Linked DNA regions of Homo sapiens. The main gene of each other region encodes a partner of the protein of the gene in region 2 in a complex. Each region holds a gene or a part of one and is shown on either strand. Other genes may lie near its edges. The genes, in order: CNOT8, CNOT2, CNOT11 and CNOT9.

What was found.
Region 1: CNOT2 (region 2) and CNOT8 share a complex: the UniProt entries of both Homo sapiens proteins name them as parts of the CCR4-NOT complex.
Region 3: CNOT2 (region 2) and CNOT11 share a complex: the UniProt entries of both Homo sapiens proteins name them as parts of the CCR4-NOT complex.
Region 4: CNOT2 (region 2) and CNOT9 share a complex: the UniProt entries of both Homo sapiens proteins name them as parts of the CCR4-NOT complex.

The regions. Positions count from the first base shown.
Region 1 is NC_000005.10:154,861,593-154,868,626, reverse strand, and holds part of CNOT8 (CCR4-NOT transcription complex subunit 8), read right to left. Parts: exon of another isoform or gene 6,958-7,034; intron 5,421-6,957; 5' UTR 5,349-5,420; coding exon 5,232-5,348; intron 3,436-5,231; coding exon 3,242-3,435; intron 936-3,241; coding exon of another isoform or gene 893-935; exon of another isoform or gene 835-892; intron 1-834. UniProt on the Homo sapiens protein: Has 3'-5' poly(A) exoribonuclease activity for synthetic poly(A) RNA substrate. Its function seems to be partially redundant with that of CNOT7.
Region 2 is NC_000012.12:70,239,007-70,246,435, reverse strand, and holds the start of CNOT2 (CCR4-NOT transcription complex subunit 2), read right to left. Parts: upstream 3,004-7,429; 5' UTR 2,956-3,003; intron 2,696-2,955; exon of another isoform or gene 2,114-2,695; intron 1-2,113. UniProt on the Homo sapiens protein: Component of the CCR4-NOT complex which is one of the major cellular mRNA deadenylases and is linked to various cellular processes including bulk mRNA degradation, miRNA-mediated repression, translational repression during translational initiation and general transcription regulation.
Region 3 is NC_000002.12:101,255,886-101,262,885, reverse strand, and holds part of CNOT11 (CCR4-NOT transcription complex subunit 11), read right to left. Parts: intron 5,096-7,000; coding exon 4,931-5,095; intron 4,072-4,930; exon of another isoform or gene 2,845-4,071; intron 2,538-2,844; exon of another isoform or gene 1,014-2,537; intron 348-1,013; coding exon 195-347; intron 1-194. UniProt on the Homo sapiens protein: Component of the CCR4-NOT complex which is one of the major cellular mRNA deadenylases and is linked to various cellular processes including bulk mRNA degradation, miRNA-mediated repression, translational repression during translational initiation and general transcription regulation.
Region 4 is NC_000002.12:218,578,812-218,585,845, reverse strand, and holds part of CNOT9 (CCR4-NOT transcription complex subunit 9), read right to left. Parts: intron 5,286-7,034; coding exon 5,106-5,285; intron 4,837-5,105; exon of another isoform or gene 4,777-4,836; coding exon of another isoform or gene 4,732-4,776; intron 2,876-4,731; coding exon 2,760-2,875; intron 1,235-2,759; coding exon 1,125-1,234; intron 1-1,124. UniProt on the Homo sapiens protein: Component of the CCR4-NOT complex which is one of the major cellular mRNA deadenylases and is linked to various cellular processes including bulk mRNA degradation, miRNA-mediated repression, translational repression during translational initiation and general transcription regulation.

The DNA.
Region 1 (7,034 bases), on a different chromosome or scaffold from region 2:
TGCCCTCAGGGAACATAAAGCTTTGGCAAAGCTCAAGTTATATTCTTATGAAGTAAATAGGTCGGGTGCGGTGGCTCACAACTGTATGTAATCCCAGCACTTTGGGAGACCAGAGTGGGTGGATCACGAGGGTCAGGAGTTAAAGACAAGCCTGGCCAAGATGGTGAAACCCCGTCTTTACTAAAAATACAAAAGTTAGCCAGGCATGGTGGGCACCTGTAATCCCAGCTACTTAGGAGGCTGAGGCAGAGAATTGCTTGAACCTGGGAGGTGGAGGTTGCAGTGAGCCGAGATTGCACCACTGCACTCCTGCCTGGGTGACAAAGCAAGACATTACCTCAAAAAAAAAAAAAAAAAAGAAAAGAAAAGAAAAAGAAAAGGCAGTAAATAGGTGGGGCATGGTGGCTCATGCCTGTAATCCCAGCACTCTGGGAGGCCAAGGCGGGCGGATCACAAGGTCAGGAGTTCGAGACCAGCCTGGCCAACATGGTGAAACCCCGTCTCTACTAGAAAAATACAAAAATTATCCAGGCATGGTGGTGGGCGCCTGTAATCCCAGCTACTCGGGAGGCTGAGGCAGGAGAACTGCTTAAACCCGGGAGGCAGACGTTGCAGTGAGCTGAGATTGTGCCACTGCACTCCAGCCTGGGTGACAGAGCAAGACTCTGTTTCAAAAAAAAAGAAAAGGAAAGGAAGTAAATGATTTCTGTATATTACATAGCAGGTCCCTTCACTTCTTGGAGAGTAGCAAATCTAGCTTCTTTGTACAGACTTACAACTTAACTAAAGCTTTTATATTTTAAAAAAGACATTAAAAATTTTTTTTCTCTTTACCTCGTATTTCCTAGAAATGTAATGGGTATGTGTTGTCTGTTCTCCTATGTCTTTTAGCTCAAGCAACACATGTATTATTGTTGACTTTTTCTTTCTTATATCTAGTGAAAGGAAAAAAGTTCTTTGAAGAAAGAAAGAAATTAAGTTTTCTTTTTCCCTAATGCTTCCATGAAGGTCAGGGGCTTTATCTATGAAAAAGTAGCAAATAGTTATTTGTAACCCACGTGAAGCAACAGCCAGCCTTAAAGTAGTCTATTCCTGCTAATGGTTCAAACAATGAATACTAGTGTAATTGTTTGAGCTACTTGTAGTTTCTCTTAATCAAAATTACTAGATGACAGAATTAAATAACTTGTAACATGTTATTACTTGGTATACAGATGATTATCTAAAAGACTCTGTCATGAAAAAAACTGAAAAAATTAATGGTCGTATAATGCTACCCCACAGATCCAATACCTTTGTTTACAGATCTTTCCAGACTATTTTCTCTATCTACACATACACACCTACATCCCTTACATCTCTACATCACAGACCATCTTTACAAATCAATACTCATCCATTGTAACACTGTCATAATATTCCACTCTAAAGATATATCCATTAATTCAACCACAGGAATTATTTATAATACCATGTAATACAAAAGTAAGGAAATAAGCTAAACGACTCCTGTTCCACTAGACTTTCACTTGCTTTTCATATAAACTTGGGTTAGACAATAAGAAAACCACTGCAATCTTGATTTTTTTCCACTAAATTAAAACCAATGATGAATCACAAGTTTCTTTTCCACTTAAATAAACATTTTTTTTTTGTTTTGCTTATTATAACTAGGCTTCAATCCCAAGTAAACATTATTTTTTTTCTTTTTCTTGAGGCAGAGTCTCATTCTGTCACCTAGGCTGGAGTGCAGTGGCACAATCTCGACTCACTGCAGCCTCCACCTCACAGGTTCAAGTGATCCTCCCACCTCAGCCTCCTGAGTAGCTGGGATTACAGGCACCTGCCAGCATACCCAGCTAATTTTTTTATTTTTAGTAGAGATGGGGTTTCACCACATTGGCCAGGCTGGTCTTGAACTCCTGGCCTCAAGTGATCCAGTGATCCACCCACCTCGGCCTCCCAGAGTGCTGGAGTTACAGGCGTGAGCCACCACGCCCGGCTGCAAGTAAACATTATTTTAAACCCAAACATACCCAAACCACTCAGTGAAATAACTCATTTTTCTTCCTTGTATTATATTATTTTTATGGTACAAACTACAGGCTTTGACAATAAACTAAAAAATGCAGTTAAAGGAAAGATCCAGATGATCTCCCAAAATTACTTGAACCTCAAGGAAATTTCCAAAACATACGAACAACAATAAAAAAAATTACTCCTTCCAGGAACAATGGCTCCACCTGTAATCCCAACACTCTGGGAGGCCAAAGCGGGCTGATCACTTTCTACAAAAAATCAGCTGGGCATGGTGGCGTGCACCTGTAGTCCCAGCTACTTAGGGGGCTGACGTGGGAGGATCAGATAAGCCTGGGAGATTGAGGCTGCAGTAAGCCATGTTAGCACCACTGCACTCTAGCCTGGGTGACAAAGCGAGACCCTGTATTGACAGGAAAAAAAGATTACTCCTAAATCATGAAACACTCCCGATGCCCAGTTAAACAAAGCAGGATACAATAGGAAGTACACTAACATCATTTTATGCAATCAGCAAAATGACAGTCTCCCCGAAATTTTCTTTGAAAATTCCTGGGCATACATCCAAAAGAACTGAAGGCAAGACCTTGAAGAAATATTTGCACACCCATGTTCATAGCAGCAATATTCACAACAGTCAAGAGGTAGAAAAAACCCACGTGTCTATCAACAGATGAATAAACAAAATGCGGTATATACATACCATGGAATTTTCCACTGCCTAGGAGTGGAATTGCTAGGTCATATGGCAACTCTATGTTTAACCTTTTCAGGAACTGCAAAACTATTTTCCAGAATTTCCCCCAAAATTCTATATTCCCAGCAGCAATGTATGAGGGTTCCAATTTTCTCCACACCCTCAACAACACTTATTATGTCTTTTTGACTATAGCCATTCTAGTGGGTGTGAAGTGGTATCCCAATGTGGGTTTAATTTGCATTTCCCTCATGACTAATGATGTTGAGCATCTTTTCATGTGCTTACTGGCCATCTGTACATTATCTTTCAAGAAAAGTCTATCTTTTGCACATTTTTAGTTGGGTTGTTTATCTTTTCATTGTTGAGCTGCTGCAGTTCTTTAAGCAGGACTTCACTTGCTGAGATTCCCTGTTCCGTCCTCTGCTTGACCGCTCTATCCAACACCCACCTGGATTCAGTGAAAACAAAACTTAAAATTAACGCATTTATTTAGAAATCACTTACGTAAGGTTAAATTTGAAATTGAACTGCCAAGTATTGATTCCAGAAGGATACTCTCCCTTCTCATTTGTGAATGTAAGGCCCAGCTGGATAATTTTTAAAAGGTCAACATTGCACCGCAGAAGCTGATATTGGTAATCTATGGAACTACGAAATTCACCAATTGGTCGCACCACAACACCTGGAAATTCTGTGTCCTGGAAAAGGAAAAAGTCTCTCATCACAAGGTTTCACAAAACAGTGGATGCTGAATTGGTAATTCATAAATAAAATTTTACCTCCATTTATAAAAGTTATGTGGCAAGCCCCAAACTTGGGCACAAAATTCTTTTTGTGTTTTTTTGAGATAGGGTTGGTCTGTCTCTGTCACCCAGGCTGGAGGGCAGTGGCACAATCACAGCTCACTACAGCCTCAACCTCACAGGTGCAATCAATCCTCCCACCTCAGCCTCCCTAAGTAGCTGGAACTACAGGTGCACACCACCACACCCAGTTAATTATTGTATTTTTTTGTAGAGATGGGGTTTCACCATGTTGCCCAGGCTGGTCTCAAGTGATCCACCTGCCTCGGCCTCCCAAAGTGCACAGATTACAGGCATCAGCCAACACACCCAGCCAAAATCCTATCTTAAAATACTGATCTTGTTGGTATCTACTGAAGAAGCACTAAAATCATGAAGCTTTGCACAACAACTTGATCCTAAATAAGCAGAATGTCAATAGAAAGAGTTGAGTAACTACAGGTAGATATGCAGTCAATTAAGAACATTCTAGGTAGAGAACAATATATGAATAAAAATACAAATACAGGGAAGTGAAACAGCCATTCAGAAAAAAATATAAAGAGACAGGCTTAGCTTGAGTGAAAAGACTGGAAGGAGCTCTGAATACCAAGCTAAAGACTTAACTCTGTAATTTCTTTTTTTTTTTTGGGACGGAGTCTCGCTCTGTCCCCCAAGCTGGAGTGCAGTGGCACGATCTCGGCTCACTGCAAGCTCTGCCTCCCGGGTTCACGCATTCTCTGCCTCAGCCTCCCGAGTAGCTGGGACTACAGGCGCCCACCACCATGCCCGGCTAATTTTTTGTATTTTTAGTAGAGGCAGGGTTTCACCGTGTTAGCCAGGATGGTCTCAATCTCCTGACCTCGTGATCCGCCCGTCTCGGCCTCCCAAAGTGCTGGGATTACAGGCGTGAGCCACCGCGCCCGGCCAACTCTATAATTTCTAAAGCAGGAGTCACAAACTCCAAGCAGCTAATGTAAAGGAGTAAAGTCAGCTAGGTATGAAAATAGTACAAGTAATCGGGACTGGAGTAAAACAGAGAGCACATGCCCGTCTACAGGAGGCCCTTAATATTACCACAATACTCATCTCTCTCTCCAGCCAGTGTCAGGCAGGAGTGGATAACAGATATTGCCAGATCTTCCTATTTTTTTTTTTCAGAGATGCCAGAAATCTGGAATTCAAGTGAGTTCTATTGACTTTTAAATGCTGGCAATAAATTTTTAAAATTCTTAACATCGTATAGTCAAATCCAACATATCTGTGGAACAGCTGGGCCCTAGGGGATGACGTAACTTCTGCTTTAAAGACTTTCAAACAGAATAATGTTATAAAAAATCTAAGATACTAGAGGTTACATCCTTCTCAGAGACACTGGCTACCTTGATATTTCATGAAGCAACACAACCTTCCATCCGGTTTAATTTACAATGGCTTTAGTGGAACATACCCATTCTTTTCAAAATCTCAAATTAAACATTCCCTAAACCCATCCATATAAGAAGGTGAGTCAAGCTGGGCATAGTGGTATGAGCCTGCAGTCCCAGCAACCTGGAAAGGTGAGGTGGGAGGACTGCTTGAGCCCAGGAGTTCAAGGCTGCAGTGAGCTATGATTGCATCTGTGAATAGCCACCGCACTCCAGCCTGGGCAACAGAGCAAGACCCCAACTTTAAAAGTGACAAAGAAGGTGAGTCAGAGTAGAGCTCCTTACCATGGCAATATAACTGTAACTGAGCACGATTTCTCGGATCTTCCTCATCTCTTCTTCTAGATTACTGGCCCACACTTCACAGATAACCTGGCTATTCTCCACAAGTGCTGCAGGCATCCTGAAGAAACCTGAGAAGTCGTCTTCAGCTAACTAGTTTTACAGTGCAAGCCAGACAATGTTTGGTCTGATCTAGATTGTAAAACATTTTAAAATCATGTAAGTTTACACACACATAAGATGTCAACACAACAAAGACATCAAAATAATATTTTACAATCACTTCATTAGTTTAAAACATTAAGATTATATTTATTCTCCATTTTATATGATGGAGAAACTTTGTCAACACACACACACACATGCACACACGCACACACACACAGTTCTTTCTTGAAGAAACTGAAGTTATTGAAACTTCTGCCCAGCAGTCCTCTGCCACAGAAGTGAAACCACTACCCTAGTTTTTCAGCTCTCTGTAGACTAGACCAAAATAATTCCGTTACCACAAATATGCCCTTATCCATGACTTTCACATCACTTTGCACAGAGACCAAATCATGGAAACAGTCCTACAGGAATCATCTTAGCCATTTTCAATGTACCTGAGATCTCTGAAAACCTGAAAGAATGTGGACCTAAACTCTCACACTCAAGCCTTTGTACCCATATGATGAATACTGGCATGGGATTCTTCCCCCATCCCACAAAAGGAAATTATTTTTCTCTACAATCCCAAAGTCAAATACAACTAGAGGTAATAAACAATACCAGTGCCTCTTTAGACATACCAGTGCCTCTTTAGATTTGTGCAAACAGAGCATGAAGTGAGGGATTTAAGTGCTAAAAAACAATCCCACTTGCTAATCTGAACCCTAAAAACCACAATGCAAATCAGAATTTTAGTTAGTATTTACTTTTTTTTTTTTGAGATGGAGTCTTGCTCTGTCGCCCAGGCTAGAGTGCAGTGGTGCACTCTTGGCTCACTGCAACCTTTGCCTCCTGGGTGCAAGCAATTCTCCTGCCTCAGCCACCCAAGTAGCTGGGACTATAGGTGCACGCCACCACGCCCAGCTATTTTTTGTATTTTAGTAGAGATGGGGTTTCACCATATTGGTCAGGCTAGTCTTGAACCCCTGACCTTGTGATCCACCGGCCAGTATTTACTTTTAAACACATAAATTAAAAAGAAACTATGCAGCAATTCAACAGTAGGACTAAAGATGGCTGGTGTAAATCATTCAACCAGAAACAGAATGATTCATGGTGTATTTTCCAGGAGAAAAATCAGGGAGGGGAAAGTATTCTGTGAGAAAAAAATTCAACATGATTGGGTCTCTGACGAATGCTGTTATTATTATGGCAAACAACGTACAAGGCCTGGTTATAAAAATACAAAAAAGCCGGGCATGGTGGCTCACGCCTATAATCTCAGCACTTTGGAAGGCCGAGGCGGGCGGATCACAAGGTCAGGAGATAGAGACCATCCTGGCTAACACGGTGAAACTCCGTCTCTACTAAAAATACAAAACGTTGGCTGGCTGTGGTGGCACGCGCCTGCAGTCCCAGCTACTCGGGAGGCTGAGGCAGCAGAATCGCTTGAACCCAGGAGGCAGAGGTTGCAGTGAGCCAAGATCGCGCCACCGCACTCCAGCCTGGGCGACAGAGCGAGACTCCGTCTCAAAAACAAACAAACAAACAAAAAAGAGCTTATCATAAAGGCACTTACTTCTAAGGCAAGCCCACTGCATGGATCCACAACACAATAGTGGGCTCTAATGTATATATTTAAAGAAAATTTCCTAG
Region 2 (7,429 bases):
GGTACCCTGGATATTCTGCCTCTTTGTGTTACAAAATCCACTACAGATCCAGGTAACAAATAACATCATAAATGTTTGGTGGTATATTTTCCTGAAATCTCAGGAAAATAACCTGTCCTCAAATGCCTATTCAAGCAAGCACATGGCATTGTTAGTTTGCCTTCAAATATGTGATCCCAACAGAATGAACTTTCTACAGTTACAAATTTTAACAACAAAAAAAAGCTATTATTTACCACTGCTTTTAAAGAGCAAGAAAATAAATTGTAAGCTAAGTTCTTTTCATTGGTCTATTAATGCTTACTCATTATTTCATATATACATGTGAAGCATACATTTTATTCATATTATCAGAAAATCTTATGAAGTAAGTCTGTCACTAGAAAAGATAAAACTATAACTTATACAGGTTGTAAAAAATTCTGTAATGGTCTTTCAAAATACAGGTACTTTTAACACCAGTATCTACTAAAGGAATACAAATGAGAACTGGGTTAGAATCACTTCTAATAAAATCTATTCATACACCTGAAAATTTTATTTACTTTTGAACAAATAATTTTCAGATTACAATAACTGTAAAGCATCTCTGAAAAATCAAAAAGTGCAACATCCAAAGTTATAAAGCAAAAACAAAGGTAATTAGTTCTTGTAGGGAGGTATATGGGAAGTTGTATCATTCTGAATTTTTTTGTTTTTGTTTTTTGCCCAGCATCAGAAGATAAGCCACAATCTGAGTTTTATCTTCAAGAGCAGGTACTTGGGGATATAAATCACTCATACACAAGCATTTTGCCCTCATTTTTCCACCATGTAAATTAAAGTATTATAGAAATTGAAAAATTGTATAGGCTGTATTTGTTGCTTGGTTAAACAGGCAATTCTCATTCCCTGAGATCAGATTAGGTTACAGATATCTCTACATTGTATACTTAGAAAAAGATTCCTGCCAACAAATGTTTACATTAACTTATTTGTATTGATAAAGCACTAATCAAGATGCAAAAAAAACTTCAGCAGTTTCTCACTTCCTCTCTAAAATACAAAGTATTCACAAAAATTATTACAATTCAAGCTCTCAGAAAATATGAGAGAAAAGTACCTTTTTTACAGTAAGGATCTTACAAAGTCAAGAAATAAGTGAGTAGAGTGGAACATGTTTTGTCTTTAAGTGTATTTTGTATTTTTTTCTTTAGATTTAACATTATAATAGAACTACAAACTAAACAAATTCAACATACAGAGCTTACTAATTATCTTGGTCCATTATAAAACATTTCAATGAACTGGGATGTGAATATAGACACTTAACCATTTCAGCCAACTATGATTCTTAACCCTTTCAATCTGCAATAGTTACCTTACAAAATTGTGAGATTTATTCATTGACGTTTGGAAAGAACTGTTGTCAATTATGCCAAGCATTCCCAAACTCAACATCAACCTTGCATGTAAATGGATACTTTAAAATTTCTATCTCATCCCTCACCCCATACTTTATTCTTTCCATTTATATTGCTTCAAAAGGGAAATCAACAGTCACACTTATGATTCCGAGCTCTAAAAATTCCTAATATTAAGCATGACACTAAATATGTTCAACTTTGAACCTTAAATTCAAGTTGGCCTCCCTCGTGAACTGATTTTAACTGAGTACTTTTTACCATTTCGCCAAGAACTAAGGGTTCAAAGCAGTGTACTTAATTATGAGGAATTGCCCAAACGATTTTAAAAGGAGTGGGATTCTCTGACCAAGACTTTTATGAAAATGAAACAAAATATGTTGCACTCAGTCTTCCGGATGTTGAAAAGTGAAGATGTCTCCAAGGATTCGAAGGAAGTTGATGTTTAGGTTCCCTCTGAGAGGGTGGTACCCTTAATGTAAGACTTTTGTGGTAGTAATACCGTACCTACAGGCCTGGAATAAATATAAGGTCTAAAACCTTGGAAATACTTTGTATAAAAGAAAACTCCAATTCTCTTTTGCTAAGGACCACAGTTACCAAGAGTTATCAGCTTTCACCCGGACAGACAACAGTGCTTCAATGAAGAACTACAAAGGCCTCTTTTAACCCTACTCTTTTCTTCTGTTAAACTTTTAAGCGAGACCTACGACAGCAAAAGGTGGAGAGGCCCCTGCGGAAGTAGAAACCCAGGACTTGCAACTTCACAGACAGAAGCGTCTGTGGTTCCTCCGCCGCCCCAGGATCATCCGGACTCAGTCTACGACACTACGGAAGCTTCACCTTCCTGGTGCGGTGGCAGAGGCGGCATCGCAGTTGCATTCCTTCTCCCTCCACCATGCACAGCCTTCGGTATCCCAGGGCCTGCAGGATCCTGACACCCGTTAGCCAGTCCAGTGTCTCCCATCTGACACTTGCAAACACACTAACAGAAATACACATAACTGGCAGATGATATACGTGTATTGAGAGAAGGTAAGAAGCCACAGACAGCACCAGCTGCCGGGAAGGCGGCAGAGCCGTCTAAAGCGGGCTCGAGCTCGTCGGCCACGGCCACGGCCGCTGCCGCCTTCTCTTCTCCCCCAGGAAGCAGCGCGGCGGCAGCGGCTCCTCCGCGCTGGCGGGAGCCTAGGGGAGTGGAGTCTGGGGAAGCCCCACCACTCGCGGATGGGACCGGGCCTAGGATCTGGAGCTGCTGCTGCTGCAGCGGCCCGAGTACAGCGACGCTTTACGTCCGGTCCACCACCACCCCCATACACACCCCCTCCCTCCCTCCACCGCCGCCACCCCCCTCCCCGCCCGCTCCGCTCTCCGTCTCTCGATTGGAGCCGAGACAAAAGCAACGGGAAGCGGTGGGCCGGGACGCTACCGGCGGACCCTGGGCGCGACCGGACCGGCCCCGGGGCATTCCCCCGCCTTGCGGGGGCCCCGAATCTGCCGCCCCCGCCGCGCGCCCCGCTGCCAGACTTCCGAAAATTTACCAAAAACTCACCGCATGAATTTTCTTGTCCCGCGGATCCAAGATGGCGACGTATCCACCGCGGAGGCTGCTGGGAGCAAGACCTTTACCCTCTGACCGCCGCCGTGACCCCCGTCGCTCCGGCTTCCCTCCAGGCGGCAGCGGAAGGTGGGAGCGACGACTGCAAAACGGCAGCGATGGGGTGGGTAGGCAGGCCGCTTTCAGCGCGCTTCTAACAAGGTGGAGAGAGGCGCTTCACTTCCCTACCGCCCTTACCGCCGCTCCGTCTTGTCTCCCACCGACTCACAGGGAGGCTTGCTGCTCCTCCGCGGCCGTTACAGAGAGCGGGGCTTCTGCGGCCGCTACCGTTTCCCTGGGGCTAGGTTGCTTCGCAGAAGGCTCTGGCCCTGAGTCCGAGGGGGACTGCGGGGTCCAGGGGCGATGAATGGTGAGGTGGCTTCAGTCCGCCCTCCCCGGGGACGCTGAGCGTGTTCGTGTTCGTGTTTGTGTTTGTGTTTGTGTTGGACACCCCCGCCCCCGCACGTCCGCCTCGTCACTCCTCCCCTCCTCACTCCCGCCACCTGGAGCGAATCTGATCGTGTCCCTGTTTCCTCCCTCAGCTCCCGCAACCTCCGGAGCTTGTGCGCGTACTTCAGGGACCGGCACCACGTCACCGTCACCTCCTGAGTAGTGAGTTCCCCTCTGATGAAACCACTGGTGTGTTTACTCACCATCCCCACCATTTTTTTTTCCCCAACCTGATGGAAGGAAGTACATAATGGAGAGCAAGTTTTTAAAGCACGGTCGTGTCGTGTGAACTTGCTCTAGCCAAATTAGGTTTATAGCACTTTTTTTGGCTCTCATTACCTCCAGTCCCCACATAAACAAGAGTGACCAGCTGGGTCATCCGCAAGACCGTTTGAAATTATTGTGGCTTGGGTGGAAACTTAAAGGAGTGAAGTATCTGCTTTCCAGAAAAATCGTTGTCATTCAAAGTGAAATTAAACTTGTTTTCTTTGCAATAATTCGCCTTTATTTCCTTGTATATCTGTAAACTCTTCACTTTTTTGTAATTACTAGACAATTCGGACTTAAAAAGAGCCTCAGCATGTGTATTTTGGAATTGTGTAGCTTCATAATGTGAAAATTATTCTTTTCTATTTGAGTAAAGTACAGTTAATTTGAAGTAAATAAAATTTCTATTTCCATTGGTTGTTTCTTTTAAAAAGTCACCTTTTACTTACAAAAGAATCACTGTAATCCAGTTTACATTTATCATTGAAGGTCAAAAGCAAGAAATAGGAAGAAACACAAGCATACTATAAAATAAAAGGTAACTGTCATGTTTTTGAAGGTAAGGTGTTTTGACATATCAGCAGACATTGTGTGAATTTATTTCAACTCCTAGTGGTACTGGTGTAGGTAGAAAATGTTTTGCTTGGTTATTCATTTCATCAAACACTCTACTTCACTGTTTTTTTTTCACTTCAGGAAAATTCGAGGAGGAACAACACATACTAGTGTCTTTCCTTTCTTTCTCCCCGTCTTCTGCAAATAGTCCCTTCCTCTTCCTGCTTTCTCCTCCTTCTCATGTTAACATCTTCAACCATAAGATGGTGTGTTAAAAGATTGAATATACCTCTATGGAATGACTTCCAGAGGGTGTAAGTCTGATATGAGAGTTTTATTACCTTGAGTATTTTACTGGAAGAGATAGAACAACAAACATTTTCATAATAAATGTGTGGGTTAGGAGTGTTAGGAGAAAATACACTGATACTATTACTTTCAATATTTGATACTACTTACTTTGACTCTCACTGAACACCTATTTGTTTAGGATGAATTCACTTTAAGCCGGGTTGAAGAACAAGCCTTTAATTGTCCTATTATTTGTGCCAAATCTATTATAAATTTGTTAAAAAATTTTTAATACCTACCTTAGAGGGTACTCTAGGTATTTAATGAGCTAGCATTTGTTAAAGGCTTGTATAGTAAGAATTCTTATAGTAAGAGTTCTTACCAATAGATGGTATATTTTTTAAATTGTCCTGTTGCATCAAAAAGTTCATCTTTATTGGTAATGTTGATTAAGTTTGCCCATTTGGTAGTTTGGTTTCTTTTAACTATCTTACTAGATTTTCTTACTTTTACCTGAAAAGTAGTCCTTACTAATAGGCACATGTTTTGTATATTTCCAAAATATGTATTATGTTAAATTCTCTGTACACTTTATTTAAAAATTACAGACGTTGAGGGAAAAAAAATACCCTATTAAGGGAAGAATGAGTTTGTGTATAACTTGTAGAAGAAGGAGGCCACCCATTTTTAGAAAAATATGGATGGTATTGAAAATTTTGCCATGGCAAGGGATAAAAAGGACAGGCTTCTCTAATGTGTCTGAAACAACATTTGAATCCCCTTTGTTCATTCCCTAAATCTGCTGCTCCTTTAGAATTCCTGATTTTCATAAATAGTACCACCATTCACTTATTTGCTCAGGCATAAAACTTGGAATTTTCTGATTCTTCACACTCATACAACTCATCAGACAGTACCATCAGTTCTTCCTGACAAATACATTCTGAATTTAGCTACTTATCACTTCCACTGGTACAACCCTTGGGAGCCACCATCATCTGTTGCTGGACCACAGCAATAACCACACTAGTTGCTATCACTTTCTATCTGTACCCTCATGAATATTTTCCCATTTAAACCATTCTCTATATACCAACCAAAGCAATCACTTAAAAAATGTTATTAGGTTATGTCACTCCCTTGTTTAAAACCCTCCAATAGCTTCCTTATGCACACAGAATGAAATCGGAATTCCTTACCATAGCCTTCAAGACTGCATAATCTGGCTCCTGCCCACTTCTCCATCTTCCCAGGAAGCAGCACAGGAAGTTGTTCTCACCCTTCTTACTGCCTCCTTTCTGTCGTGGGCTGTGCTTTTTCTAGTCTGTAGCAGAGTCTGTTAGTTGTCCCCAAAAATTCCTCCATTTTTTTCATAGTAATAGACATGGATACATGGCTACCCAGAACAAAGACTATATTTTGCAGCCTTCCTTGTAGCCATGTAATAGTGCTGGCTGATGGGATGTAAGCAGTATATCATGTGGCACACTTGTAAAACCATCCTTAAAAGATAGTTGGTGCACACCTTCAATGCGGCTTTTCCTTTATCCTGTACCGTGGAATATAGATGTGATGGCTTAGAACTGTAGCTGCCAATTTGTGCCTCATGCAAGTTCTCTCATTCTAGGGATGGCAAAACTAAACTGGTGGAAACCAGGGTCTGTGAGAACTTTATGGATCAGAGCACCATGCTAGCCCTGCAGTCGTAAATGTCTATATTATTAAAGCCACTATTTTGGAGTCTCTTGTTCTCAACTGAATTTAATCTTACCTGATACTCTGTCTCAGGGCCTTTGCACTTGCTTTTTATTTTTTATTTATTTATTTTTTTTCTGCCTGGGATGTGGTCTTCTGTCTTGGATATGGCTGACTCATTCTCTTCCTTCAGGTTAACCCAAATATCTCTGACAGGCCTTCCCTGGCCACCGTATCTAAAATAGCTCACGTTCCCATTTATTCTCTGTCAATCACGTGCCCCTCTATTTTCTTAATAGCATTTATAATTTATCATTATCTTGTTTATTCACTGTTTATTTTCTACCTCCCTTCACCCTACAAAAATATAAACTACACCTGTTTTTTTCCACTACTTTATCCTTCACACATGGTAGGCATTAGATAAATGCTGTTAAATTAGTGAGTGAATGAATCAACAAAATTCTTATCCAAGATTAGCTAGACTTTTTAAATAATAAATGAGTAAATGTCAACAGATATCCTTAACACAAAATTTGTAAAATCCAATCTAGGAAACAGGAAAAACAGTACTAAACTAATAGGATATTCCTGACCTCCAACTTAATAAAGAAGATGTCTACCTTTTTCTGGGAAATCTGTAAGGCTAGTACAAGTTAAAAAAAAAAAGACTGCACTGCAGTATATCCAGGGCTAAAATTCACACTAAAAGGGGTCTGAATTATAATTTACTAGACCTCAGTTTCTTCATCTTAAATATGTGTAAGCTTTGAATGGTAATACTATAACAGTTAAAAGTTTAATAGTAAGCCCAACTTATGAGTGACAAAACATGTTAAACATTAATTTAGTCTTCAGGCACTATTTTAACAAGTGGTTATTTCTTGATAATACTGGCAAGGATTCAGAGAAACAGGGCTGCTTATATTGCTGAGAGTGTATGTTGGCAGCACTTTTCTAGAGTGCAGTTTGGCAATATGTATCAAAAGCCTTGAGCCATGTGCATTTGACCCAGCGATTCTTTTAGAAATGTGTCATAAGCAGGCTGGGTGCAGTGGCTCATGCCTGTAATCCCAGCACTTTGGGAGGCCAAGGCGGGTGGATCACCTGAGGCCAGGAGTTTGAGACCAGCCTGGCCAACATGGTGAAACCCCGTCTCTACTAAATACAA
Region 3 (7,000 bases), on a different chromosome or scaffold from region 2:
TTTCTTAAAGAAGAAATTAACTGTCACTGAACATCTCTACTATGTTCTAGACACTCACTACACTAGAAAGATTCACACTAAATTACAATTTAAGTCATAATAAAAATAAAATGATGTCTCAAAAACTGAAAAGTCCTAGAGGATCCTGCTGACAGAATAAAACAAAGAGTATAAATTAATTTATATGTACCTACTTTCAATAGGTGGCTTTGGTCCGCTGACTAAAGCTTCTGTGATCTGAGAGGCAACTGAGCTGTCAAATCCAGAATTAGAAGAATCCGGGTCTGGGTCACTGAGAATACTGGGGAAGCTCGCTTTGCTTTGCGTTGGCAATTCAGATTGGCGTTCTGGAAATAGGAGACATTTTAAAATTATGGACATCATGAGGAGAGAGAAAAGACAAGCTACCAACTGAGGCAAGCTATCTGTAACAGAGAAAAACAAAGGGCCAGATTCAGAGAGAGAGAGAAAATGTGTGTATGTCTGTACGTATAGCAGGTCCTCACTTAGCGTTGTTGAAAGGTTCTTGGAATCTGCCACTAAGTGAAGTGACGTGTAACAAAACAACTATTTTTATCAATGTTATAATAAAACAATGTTGATGAAACAGTGTTATTCAAGGACCTGCTGTACATCACTTCACTTAAATCTGCAGTTTCCAACAACCCGTCAGTGATGTTAAGTGATGACTTACTGTACATATATTTTTAAATCAATGTTTTAAAAAAAGAAAGAACCCACCAGGCGCAGTGGCTCATGCCTGTAATTCCAGCACTTTGGGAGGCCGAGGCAGGCAGATCACGAGGTCAGGAGATCGAGACCATCCTGGCTAACACGGTGAAACCCTGTCTCTACTAAAAAAATACAAAAAATTAGCCGGGCATGGTGGCAGGTGCCTGTAGTCCCAGCTACTCGAGAGGCTGAGGCAGGAGAATGGCATGAACCCGGGAGGCGGAGCTTGCAGTGAGCCAAGATCGCGCCACTGCACTCCAGCCTGGGCGACAGAGCGAGACTCCATCTCAAAAAAAAAAAAAAAAAAAAGAAAGAAAGAAACCAACAGGAAAAAATGGACTAGTAACTTTAATAAGGATTTTGTTTAAAAAGCTTGAATGGCCAAAAAAATCTGAAAAGATATTTAATCCCATTAGGAACTAGGGAAAATCCAGTTAAAACACAAGATACTATAACATACCCACCAGATTGGCAAAAATGTATAAACTTGACATTACCAAATGCTGAAGAGGATGTAAGGTAACTTGCATGGTGCTACAGGAGTGAAAAATGGCAAAGCAACTTTGGAAAATAATTTGATGTTTCTTTATAATGTTTACATGTGCATTTCTTTCCATCTAGGAGACACACTTTCACACGCGCCCCAGAATAATGTGCAAGAATGTTCACAGCAGTATTATGTCCATCAACAACAGAATGGACACAGAACTTGGTACTCCACAGTGTGAAGGTACCACAGCAGCAATGAAGGGCAGCCACTGCAGTTACACGCCATCAGCATGGACTCATCTGTCAACCCCCAACAGAAGGAAGGCACAAGAGAATAAATGCAGTACAATTCCACATGTATAAAGTTCAAGGGCATGCAAAGTGAAACTATAGGCAGGCACAGGAGGGAAGCAAATTGAGGATGATTATCACAAAAATCAGGTTAGTGATGAGGCAGCCACTGGGAGAAACAGGGAGCCTGTAGGCCCTGAAAATATTCTCTTTCTTAACTTGGATGGCAGGTTGCTCCTGGTTCACTTAATTATAATTCCTTTAAAAAGTGAATGCATGTTTCACTTCAGATTGTGTAATTTTAAAAACACGGGGCTAAATTCCTGATTAAAGAACTATACAAATCAATAAAAGACCATCAACCCAATGGAAAAATGGCCAGAGACATATGAAAAGATGCCTTAGACATATAGCATCTTTTCTCATCCACTTACTAGGAGAAATGCTCACTAAAATTATCCTGTAATGCCATTTAAAAAAATCTCAGATTGTTGAAGTACAAAAAGTTAGATAACATATTATCAACCAAAATGTGAAAAAAAAAAAAAGATAAATTGGCCAGCTGTTTGGTAAACTAGTAAGTGGTAGGTGTTTGTCAGGAATAAATCATAAAGAAAAACAAAACCTCTGAAATGAAAACTCATTGTTAGGGTAAAACTTCACCCCTTGTAGTCACTTATGTTTAACTTGTCTACTTGTTTTTTTAAAGTTAAGAAAACACAAACTGCATCATCCAAAAATACACCTTTGGTCCACGGATGCCACTGGAAGACATCTGAATTTTAGACCTCCAGAGAGAAGATCTGGGTGGCTAGCTCCAGAGTGGAGGCATGCTTGCTTTTTCTTTACACTTGTGAAGAGGAATGGATCCGGACATCTGCAATCTGGGTAGAGGACGGCAGGCAGCAAGCTTAGCCACTCGGCCAGGCTTCTCAGCCCTTACTCTAGACATGTGATCCTTCCTCCACGTGATATACTTCACAACTTTCTTACGGCTACTCAAGGCATCCCAAGTTAAAAGGAAGGTCAGATGTGATTCTCACTTTATTATGATAAAAAAAATTACTATTTAAATACTATAAATAAATATTATAATAAATACTAAGCTAGAACCATCAGAATACATCACTTCTGTATCCAGTTTTCAAAGTATCTTTGGTGTTTGTCAGGAATAAATAAAAGTAATCATTTTATTTCTATTAAATTATATCTGGCACTAGTGGCTAGTACTTTTGTACTTATTAGTACAACCTTAAAAAGTCTTAAAAAGATTTCTTTTGGTTTCAGAACATAACCATTGTTACATTGTTCTTGTCTCTGCTTTTGTAACAGGGTCTCACTCTGTTGCCCAGGCTGGAGTGCAGTAGTACAATCATGGCTTATTGTAGCGTTGACCTCTCAGGATCAAGTGATCCTCTTATGTCAGCCTCCTGGGTAGCCGGGACCACAAGTGCACACACCACCATACCCAGGTAATTTTTATTTTTTTAATTACTTTTGTAGAGACAGGGTCTCCCTATGTTGCCCAGGCTGGTTTTAAACTCCTGGGCTCAAGTGATTCTCATGCCTTGGCCTCCCAAACTGCTGGGATTATAGGTATGCGCCATTGTGCCTGGCCCCATTGTTATATTGTTAATACCCAATAGTTTAAAGGTTCACAATGTTGCAAAGGAAAAGCTGTTTACTGCAACATGTCACCTTATATCAGAAGCCAAATGTCACAGGTTTATGAAGTCTAAGAAGGATGGGGCATTGTCAAAATACTTCAGCTTACTTAATTACAAAGTCAAGGGTTCACAAACCCAGCTACATATTACAATTTCCCTGTTGAGTTGCTCTCAAGTGAGAAAATGAATGCTGACAGCAGGCAAGCCCAAAGTGCCTCCTCTACTCCTTCAGAACTCAGAGAGCCTCTCTCTGACCACCAGTTCTCCTTCTCCTATTATTTTCTGTCAGGACACACTGTTTACTTCAAGAGCACTCATTCATTTGCTTACAGGTTTAACACAGAATGTGCCAGAACAATCCTGAACGAGAACAAAGTTGAAAGTCTCATACCTCCCGATTTCAAAACTTAGTACAAAGCTACAGTAATCAAAACAGTGTGGTACTGGCAGAAAGACAGACATATAGACAAATAGAATGGAATAGAAAGCCCAGAAATAAACCCTTGCATATATGGGCAAATGATTTTCAACAAGGATGCCAAGAGAACGTTGGGTTTTGGCTATTCAGCATCCCGAGACAGGTCTCACGATATTGTGCAGGCTGGAGTGCAGTGGCGCAATCACAGCTCACTGCAGCCTCGATCTCCCAGGCTCAAGTGATTCTCCCACTTAAGCCTCCCAAGTAATTGAGACCACAGGCATGCACCACCACGCCCGGCTAAGTTTTTAATTATTTGCAGAGACAAAGTTTCCTTATGTTGCCCAGGCTAGTCTTGAACTCCTGCCCTCAAACGATCCTCCCACTTTGGCCTCTCCCAAAGATTACAGGCATGAGCTACTATGCCAGCCTTTCTTTGGTTTAAAGATGGATTTTTCTTTTTTTTTTTTTTTTTGAGACAGACTCTCGCCCTGTCACCCAGGCTGAAGTGCAGTTGCACAATCTCAGCTCACTGCAACCTCCAGCTCCCAGGTTCAAGTGATTCTTGTGCCTCAGCCTCCCAATTACAGGTGTGAGCCACTGTGACTGGCCGGATTTTTCTATTTCTGCAAAAAACACTGTTGGAATTTTGACAGGAATTGCACCAAATCTGTTGATTGTTTTGGGTAGTATTGACATTTTAACAAATAGTAAGTCTTCCAATCAAAACTTAAAAAAAAACCCACTAAATTTTATCCAGCTTTCTTCTAAAACAGAAAAAGCAATCAATTCAAGTGAAAACTCCAAATGAATTTACATGCTATTAGCATCCAAAAATTTAAAGAGTTCCATTTATTTATTTATTTATTTATTTATTTATTTATTTATTTATTGAGATGGAGTCTCACTGTAGCCCAGGCTGGAGTGCAGTGGTTTGTTCTCAGCTCACTGCAACCTCCACCTCCCGGGTTCAAGCTATTCTCCTGTCTCAGCCTCCTGAGTAGCTGGGATTACAGGCGTGCTGCACCACCATGTCTGGCTAATTTTTTGTATATTTAGTAGAGACAGGGTTTCACCATGCTGGCCAGGCTAGTCTCAAACTCCTGACCTCAAATGATCTGCCCACCTCAGCCTCCCAAAGTGCTGGGATTACAGGTGTGAGCCACCGTGCCCAGCCAAGACTTCCATTTAAGATCCAGTACTAAAACTACTTTTTAAAATGGATGATACTAACCTTTTAGCAGTTACAAAAAACATCATTTTAGTAGAGTCCTCAACAAGAGAGGCCTAATATTACCACACAGAAATGCCCAAAACACTGATTCCTCCTTACCGGCCAAGGCTAACTGAAGCCCACTAATGTCCACAGACTGGCCCATGTTTCCAACGTCCATCAGTGCAATCTGGCGAGGCGTCTTTTTGAAGAGTTCCCGTGGGGGTGCCAGCATCAGCTGGGAAAGAAAAAACTTTTCTGGTGGAGTTATAGGAGGTAAAAATCCTGCAAACAAAAATGTATAACGATTTCTCCAATGGTTACTTTTAAAAATCAACTTGAATCTGGTAAAATCAGTACTTGCTACTTGCCACTTCAAGCCACATAGTTTTAAGAACTAAATTATGATTAAGTTTCAGTCAACCAAATATATACATTTACAAACTATGTAATATGTCATTTGAAATTCTATGATCTGTGGCCCTACAAATGAAACTTAAGGTTTTTGTACTTGTTAACTGTAAGAGTTAAAGAAAGAGGAAAGAAACACAAAACGCAGCCTGGCAGTCAAAGACAGGTTTTCTTTAGTTAAAACATCGGCCAGGAGTGCTTCTCAGGTTCTAACTAAAGAAAATCTGTCTTTGACTGCCAAGCTGCGTTTTGTGGCTTTTTTTTTTTTTTTGAGATGAAGTCTCACTCTTGTCTCCCAGGCTGCAGTGTGATGGCATGATCTTGGCTCACTGCAACCTCCACCTCCCGGGTTCAAGAGATTCTCCTGCCTCAGCCTCCCAAGTAGCTGGGATTACAGGCACCTGCCACCATGCCCAGCTAATGTTTGTATTTTTAGTCGAGTCGGGGTTTCACCATGTTGGCCAGGCTGGTCTTGAACTCCTGACCTCAGGTGATCCACTCGCCTCAGCCTCCCAAAGTGCTGGGATTACAGGCATGAGTCACCGTGCCCCGCCTGGTGTTTCTTTCCTCTTTAACTCTCACATTAGTAACTTCATTTTCTTTTCTTTTTTTTTTTGAGATGGAATCTCGCTCTGTCGCCCAGGCTGGAGTGCAGTGGTGCAATCTCGGCTCACTGCAAGCTCTGCCTCCTGGGTTCACGCCATTCTCCTGCCTCTGGCTCCCGAGTAGCTGGGACTACAGGCGCCCGCCACCACGCCCAGGTAATTTTTTGTACTTTTTAGTAAAGACAGGGTTTCACCGTGTTAGCCAGGATGGTCTTGATCTCCTGACCTCGAGATCCACCCACCTCGGCCTCCCAAAGTGCTGGGATTACAGGCGTGAGCCACCACGCCTGGCCCAATAACTGCATTTTCTAAAGTGCCTCAATTCCTGCAAAGGCTAAAGCTTATATATGCAAACAAAAACAGACAACACTATAGTGCTCGGAAATGCTTTTCTTTCTTCTCTGTTTCCACTGTGTAGAAGTTGAATAAATAGAAGAGCAACCAGCAGCTATCCAAATACACTACCTGATTCAACACACAATGCAGCTACAAATTCCCACAAGGCTGAATGTTCCTTCCCTTTTGTCCCATGTTTAATTGCTCATGAAGCCTCATCTCTCCCACTGCAGAAATGTCACCAGGCTGCATTCCCTCAGATGTAGTCCCCACGCCTCTCTTGCTGGGACTACTCCTGCCCCCTCTACTGACTTCCCCAGCTCCCAGTTTTGACCCCTGCTCACCCACCACCCATAGTCCATACTTCCTCTTACCATTTAGTTATATCTCTAGAGTACAAATCTGATCACATTACTTAACCTGTGTACACAGAATTAAACCCAGATTTCTACACCATTACAAGACCCTTCAAAATCTGGTCCCACCACACCTTCCTAATCTCACTTCTTGACCTTCTCTCCCATCCATGTACCCTACACCCCGGTTGCACAAAATCCCTCAACTTCTACACTATTTTTTTTTTTTTTGAGGCAGTCTCACTCTGTTGCTCAGGCTGGAGTGCAGTGGCGCGATCTCAGCTCACTACAGCCTCCGCCTCCCAGGTTCAAGCAATTCTCCTGCCTCAGACTCCTGAGTAGCTGGGATTACAGGAGTGCACCATCATGCCGGGCTAATTTTTGTATTTTTTGGTAGAGATGGGGTTTCGTCATGTTGGCCAGGCTGGCTTCCAACTCCTGGCCTCAAGTGATCTGCCTGCCTTGGCCTCCCAAAGTGCTGG
Region 4 (7,034 bases), on a different chromosome or scaffold from region 2:
ACAAAAAGTGAGACCTTGTGTCTACAAAAAAATAAAAAAATGTAGCCAGGTGTGGTGGCATGTGCCTATGGTTCCAGCTTCTCAAGGCTGAGGTGGGTGGATTTGTGTGATCCCAGGAGTTTGAGGGTGCAGTGAGCCATGATCATGCCACTGCACTCAAGAGTGGGCAACAGAGCAAGACCTTGTCTCAAAAAAAAAAAAAAAAAATAAAATAAAAAATAAATTTCCTATTGTTCATTGCTAGTACATGGAAATTTAATTTTTTTTTTTTGAGTCTCCCTCTGCCGCCCAGGCTGGAGTGCAGTGGCGTGATCTTGGCTCACTGCAATCACTGCATCTCCACCTCCCAGGTTCAAGCGATTCTCCTGCCTCAGCCTCCCCAGCAGCTGGGACTACAGGCACATGCCACCACGCCCGGCTGATTTTTGCATTATTTTTTTAGTAGAGACTAAAAAAAAAGTAGATGAAAAAATTTAACTGGGTGAACTGACAGATTCATATTCCTGGAGTTATGGGAGAATTACAGGTTTTCAGAATGCTTAGTGTATTTGACATGCATATTCTTAGGGCATTTCAGATATACGAAGCATTCCGGTATTAGAAGTAAGACAAACAAACAAAAAAAGACAGTGGTGTGTGCCTGTGCCCATGGTCCCTATTACTTGGGAGGCTGAGGCAGGAGGATCACTTGAGCCTAGGAGTTCAATTCCAGCCTGGGTAACACAGCAAGACCCTATCAGAAAGAAAAGAAAAGAAAAGAAGAGAAGAGAAGAGAGAAGGGAAGAGGAGAAGTCCCAAATTTAAACTCTTATTCCTTTAATAATACTCTTTATATATTGAATCAAGTTCTTATGCTTTACTCTCCCTACAATTCCAGCAAATGTTTCCACATATATGCTGAATTTAATCCCAAATGTTGGATCTCAAAGTCTTATTAACAACACTTAGAAGAGTGCTTGATAGGAGTCATCATGTTCCTGATACTTATTGATTAGTGAATGAGACAACCTCAAAGACAAAAATGAATGACTGGTGTACAAAAATCATAACCGGCAAGACAAAACACCCAACTTAGACTACTACTGTGAGTATTTCAGGCTTGCAAAACAATTCTAATAACTTACCAATAACTCCAAGGCTGGTGAGCCGGAGATACTCAAAGGGACGTGTTTTGCTGACAGTGTGCAAAAAGGGGTACAAAAAAAGTGGGATGTGTGCTGCGAGAAACGCTGACCTGGAAGAAAACAATAATTACATTCACAGCCCAGGGTTGATTTCTAAGGATCCTGAACTTTCAAATTTCTAGGTGGTTAATTCTGTAAGGCCTTAACATTGTCAGAGCAAGGAATCCTTAGGAAAACAATGTTACTGGTCATTAGTCTCAACCAATGGTTCTCAAATGGGGTAAATTTTGCCCCCTGGAGGACATGTGGCAATGTCTGGAGACATCTTTGATTGTCACAACTCAGGATTATGAAGCACTATTGGCATCCAGTGGGAAGAGGCCAGAGATGCCATTAAACATCCTACAATGCACAGGACAGTCCTCTCCTGCCCTCTCCTTTCCATCACAAAGATTCATCCAGCCCCAAATGGTAATGGTGCCAAAGCTGAAAACCCTAGTCCAGATCACAGTGGTTAAGAAAACACATGATTTTCCCTGTAATCAGCAAAAAGTACCTTACAAACTGATTAACTTAAAATATCCAATTGTGGATTTTAAAAAATAGACCACAAAATGCTATTAAGTGTCCAAGAGATTGTCCTAGATTATCTCCCTCACCTATGACTGAATAATAGTATTCACAGGTGCAGTCGAATAAACCTTACAAACCAATACAACAAAACAAAGCAGCCATTATCAGGCTTACCTGCTATACTTTAATAAGCACATTCTTCTTTTTTTGTTAGGGCATTTCAGATACACAAACCATTCTGAAAACAGTTTAGTCAGGCAACTAATAAGGAAATCAGTCTATTATTTTATATTATTTATAGTTACACCTTGTAGAAGAGCCAACGCCCAAGATTTTTAACACTCAAAGTACTCTTGTGTTTTTGTTAAGTGCTTAAAAGTAATTTTCTTAGTAATTTCTCTAAAGCTGTGTAAGGTCAGTGCCAACCTAGCATACATATTTCATAAGGAAACTTGACAAAGAGGAAAGGCTTTAATAAGATGACTATTAAGTGCCTTTGGGGCCATAAAAGCCCACAAAGTAGATTCCTGAACAGGATTTCCCTTTTCTTAATTTTTTAGATATGACAGGTGGCAAAAATATTTTAACTTACATGCCAATTCTCGTCTATTATAGAGGCCGCCCAGAATGCTATGTTAAGAAGGATTCTGAAGTCAAATCTGGGTTCAGTGTGGGAAAAGTGCTGGAAAAATAATTACTAAACTCCTCTTATATGCCATGCACTATGCCTCACAGATGACATAGTGTCAATAACAGGTCAGGGAGTGAGAAGTAGCTGTATGCCTGATACCTTTCCTGTAATGTGAACACTGTTTCTTTAAAGTTCATTGGGTAAAAGTAAATAAGAATCCGGAAGACCAGGAGAGAGAGAGAGAGAGAGAGAGAGAGAGAGAGAGAGAGAGAGAGAGAGAGAGACACACACACACACACACACACACACACACACACACACACAAACGTTCTCTCTCTCTCTCCTCCATGCCCTTCCTTTTATTATTCAGAGAACGTTTAGGACCATATTCAATGTATATCTCCCCCAAGTGACTCACCCAAAGCATTTACCTGGTTTCTGGATGTGATGCTACACATTGCAGTAATGCCAGAGCATTGCAAACTCTGTTAGACTGGTGTGCTGTCAAGGTGGGTGGGTTGATAGATGGATAAATATTTACAATTTCCTAAAAAATGGAAATCAGCATCAGATGAATAAGGAATAACTAAAAATTAATTCCCATGGTAATAAAGCAAAAAAAAAAAAAGGCAAATAAAATAGCTCTTAATTCTGTGCATCTTTTAAGAACTCAGTCATCAAAGAGGGAGCAGAAATAATGCTCATATCCTTTCATCACAAACTTACTTGGCTGAGACTAGCTAAGACATTTCTACATTTGTCTCTAGGAAGATTTTTTTTTTTGAGACTCACATTTCTACATTTGTCTCTAGGAAGATTTTTTTTTTTGAGACGGAGTCTCGCTCTGTTACCCGGGCTGGAGTGCAGTGGCACGATCTTGACTCACTGCAAGCTCTGCCTCCCAGGTTCACACCATTCTCCTGCCTCAGCCTCCAGAGTAGCTGGGACTACAGGCGCCTGCCACCACGCCCAGCTAATTTTTTGTATTTTTAGTAGAGATGGGGTTTCACCGTGTTAGCCAGGATGGTCTCGATCTGCTGACCTCGTGATCTGCCCGTCTCGGCCTCCCAAAGTGCTGGGATTTCAGGCGTGAGCCACTGCGCCCGGCCTAGGAAGATTTCTGTGGAGGCAAATGTAGTCATCTACACTTCCTCTTATATTCTCCAGCTACTGAGGCTATCAGTTGAGGGATACTCAAATTTTTATAATTTTGCTAGCATCCTGCTTTAAGTTACAGTGATGAGATCACTGGCCAGAAAGTGTTAAGTCAACCACGGTGACTCATAAAGAAGTTTGAATTTGGTTAGGTAGTAACATGGTAAGGACATGAATCAATGGGTGGGGATATGTATAAACAGCAGTGAATATATGCACTATCTGTCAAAAAGTAATGATTTACTCAATACAATTCCATTTACATTTTTTTTCTTTTTTTTTGAGACAGGGTCTCACTCTGTCATCCAGGCAGAGTGCAGTGGCATGATCATGGCTCACTGCAGCCTCCACCTCCTGGGCTCAATTGATCCTCCTACTTCAGCTTCCCAAGTAGCTGGGATTACAGGAGTGTACCACCAAGCCTGGCTAATTTTTGTATTTTTTGTAGAAATGGTGTTTCGCCATGTTGCCCAGGTTGGTCTCAAACTCCTGGGCTCAAGCAATCCTCCTAACTCAGTCTGCCAAACTGCTGGGATTACAAGCATGACCCACTGCACCTGGCTACAATTTTCCATTTACATTATTTGTAAAACTTTTACATAGAAAAACGTTCCCATAACAAAGATCAGTTTCTTGGCTAAATGCAATAGAGATGGAATGTGAATTTACTTAAGAGTTGAAAAGTTAATCTAATTGTTAGGAATTTGGGGCAATACTTTAATGGATGATCATGCCACTACCTAGGTATTTTGGTATTGTTATTGTACCATATCAGTTAATTAGCCACCAGTGACCATTCTGGTTTGAACTGAACTTCAGTTATCTATTCTTTAATGTACAAGTGTACCCACCTTTAATACTACAGCTGTTATACCTTCAACATTTCCTTTCCAGGCCAGGCATGGTGGCTCATGCCTGTAATCTCAACATTTTGGGAGGCCAAGGTGGGTGGATCACGAGGTCAGGAGTTCAAGATCAGCCTGACCAACATGGTGAAACTCCGTATCTACTAAAAATTAAAAAAAAAAAAGCCAGGCATGGTGATGCAGGCCTATAATCCCAGCTACTCAGGAGGCTGAGGCAGGAGAACCACTTCAACCCGGGAGGCAGAGGTTGCAGTGAGCCGGGATTGCACCATTGCACTCTAGTCTGGGCGACAGAGCGAGATTCCGTCTCAAAAAAAAAAAAAAAAGAAAAACAAACAAAAAAACCCAAAAACCCATTTCTTTTCCATAGAATATATTGTACCTTGTGGTCCTTATACTCTACTTTCCACCTTCCTCCCCCTGTCATGTAGATTTATCTTACAGTACTCCTAAAGCGGTGTTCGTCAAAGCGTAGTTCTTAGATCACTTGCATCACAATCACCTGGGGGAGGTGAAAGTGCTTATTAAAATATAGATTATAGGGCCCACCTCAGACTGACTAAATTGAATCTCTTGGGTAAGGATCCAAGAATCTGCATTTTAACAAATACCTCAGACCTTTCTAAAACAGATTCTTACAAATGCAGTTTTTTAAAGAATCATCCTCCTAAAGTCTTCAAATCATTTGGGCAAAGGTAAAGAAATATACAAGTGTAATGAAAAGAACTGAACTGCCAATCATGGACATGAACCCACCTGTAAAAGTGCTGCAATAGTACCAAATGAATGCCACAGCATGGGTGCAAGGTCAGGAACAGATTCTCGCTTCTTACTTAGCTCCAGCAAAGCATTTTCCCTAGTCTCAGGACTGGACAGCTCATTGATCCACTGATAGATCTTTTCTCTATCCACTTGTGCCAGTGTAGTAGGCACAGGCTTCAGATGAAGACAAGAAAGTAAATATCAGTTTATTAGAGTCAAACCAAGTCTTACCCTGCAACAGAGTTTTAGAGGAAATATATTTTTCATGAATACCAGGGGAGCGTTTCTAAATACATACATTTGATGTCAACTATTCAATCTCTTTGGTAGTTACTGATGAAAATCTAAAATGCACACATACCCTTTGATAATTCCATGTTTAGGAATTTATCCTGTAGGTATAATTGGGCTGTGCTAAAGACATACCAGGATGTTTACTGTTGCACTGTTTTAAAAGCAGAAAAGTGGCCGGGCGCGGTGGCACACCCCTGTAATCCCAGCGCTGTGGGAGGCCATGTTGGGTGGGTCACTTGAGGTCAGGAGTTTGAGACCAGCCTGGCCAACATGGCGAAACCCCGTCTCTACTAAAAATACAAAATTTAGCTGGGTGTGGTGATGGGCGCCTGTAATCCCAGCTACTCAGGAGGCTGAGACAGGAGAATTGCTTGAACTTGGGAGGTGGAGGTTGCAGTGACCCGAGATAGCGCCACTGCACTCCAGCCTGGGCGACAGAGCAAAAAAAAAAAAAAAAAGCCAGGTGTGGTGGTGCATGCCTGTAGTCCCAGCTACTCAGGAGGCTGAGGCACTAGAATCGCTTGAGCATGGGAGGTGGAAGTTATAGTGAGCTGAGATTGCACCATTGCACTCCAGCTTGGGCGACAGAGTGAGACTCTGTCTCAATAAACAAACAAACAAATAAATAAATAAATAAATAAATGCAGAAAACTGGGCCAGGCGTGGTGGCTCATGCCTGTAATCCCAGCACTTTGGGAGGCCAAGGCAGGTGGATCATGAAGTCAGGAGATTGAGACCATCCTGGCTAACACGGTGAAACTGGTGTCTCTACTAAAAATACAAAAAATTAGCTGGGCGTGGTGGCAGGCGCCTGTAGTCCCAGCTACTCTGGAGGCTGAGGCAGGAGAATGGTGTGAACCCAGGAGGCGGAGGTTGCAGTGAGCCGAGATCGCGCCACTGCACTCCAGCCTGGGTGACAGTGTGAGACTCCGTCTCAAAAACAAAAATGCAGAAAACAAACAAGTATCTCTCACTAAGAGACTGGTTAAATATTGGTGCAGCTTTATAATGTGATACTATGTAGTCCTTTAAAAAAAGAAGCAGCTCTCTATATACTGTATATTGATACTAAGTAAAAACAATAAAAGGGTTACAGAAGAGCATATAAAATGTTTCCATTAATATACACACATATAAAAATAAAAAATACATATACATTCTTACACATTTACATATAACATTTCTAGAAGGACACATAAAGAACTGTTAACTGTAGTTACCTCTAAGGTTGGGGATTTACAGGGAGACTTACTTTTCATTGTTTACACTAAAACCTTTTGCATAAACTTTTTTTAAAAAACCATATGCATATAATAGTTTTTGAGAGGAAAAAAAATTATGCCTTCCCAATACTGGTCCCTCCCCAGTGATTCTGACATCCCCCCTCAACTGAGCAGAAAACCTGTAATTTGGAAAAGCTCTCCCTCTTAATGATTCTTCAGTATATTCTCTAACTACATCCCTTTGAGAACCATTCATTACTTACTCATGTAGGAAATACATACTTAATAGGGCATGCTTTCATTATTATGCTAAAGAATCACAATATTCCCCCCAAATTTGAATATTTTATAATTCTCTATAGTCATCAAATATGTTTGTGACCTTGGTTAAGTTCCTTAATTATTC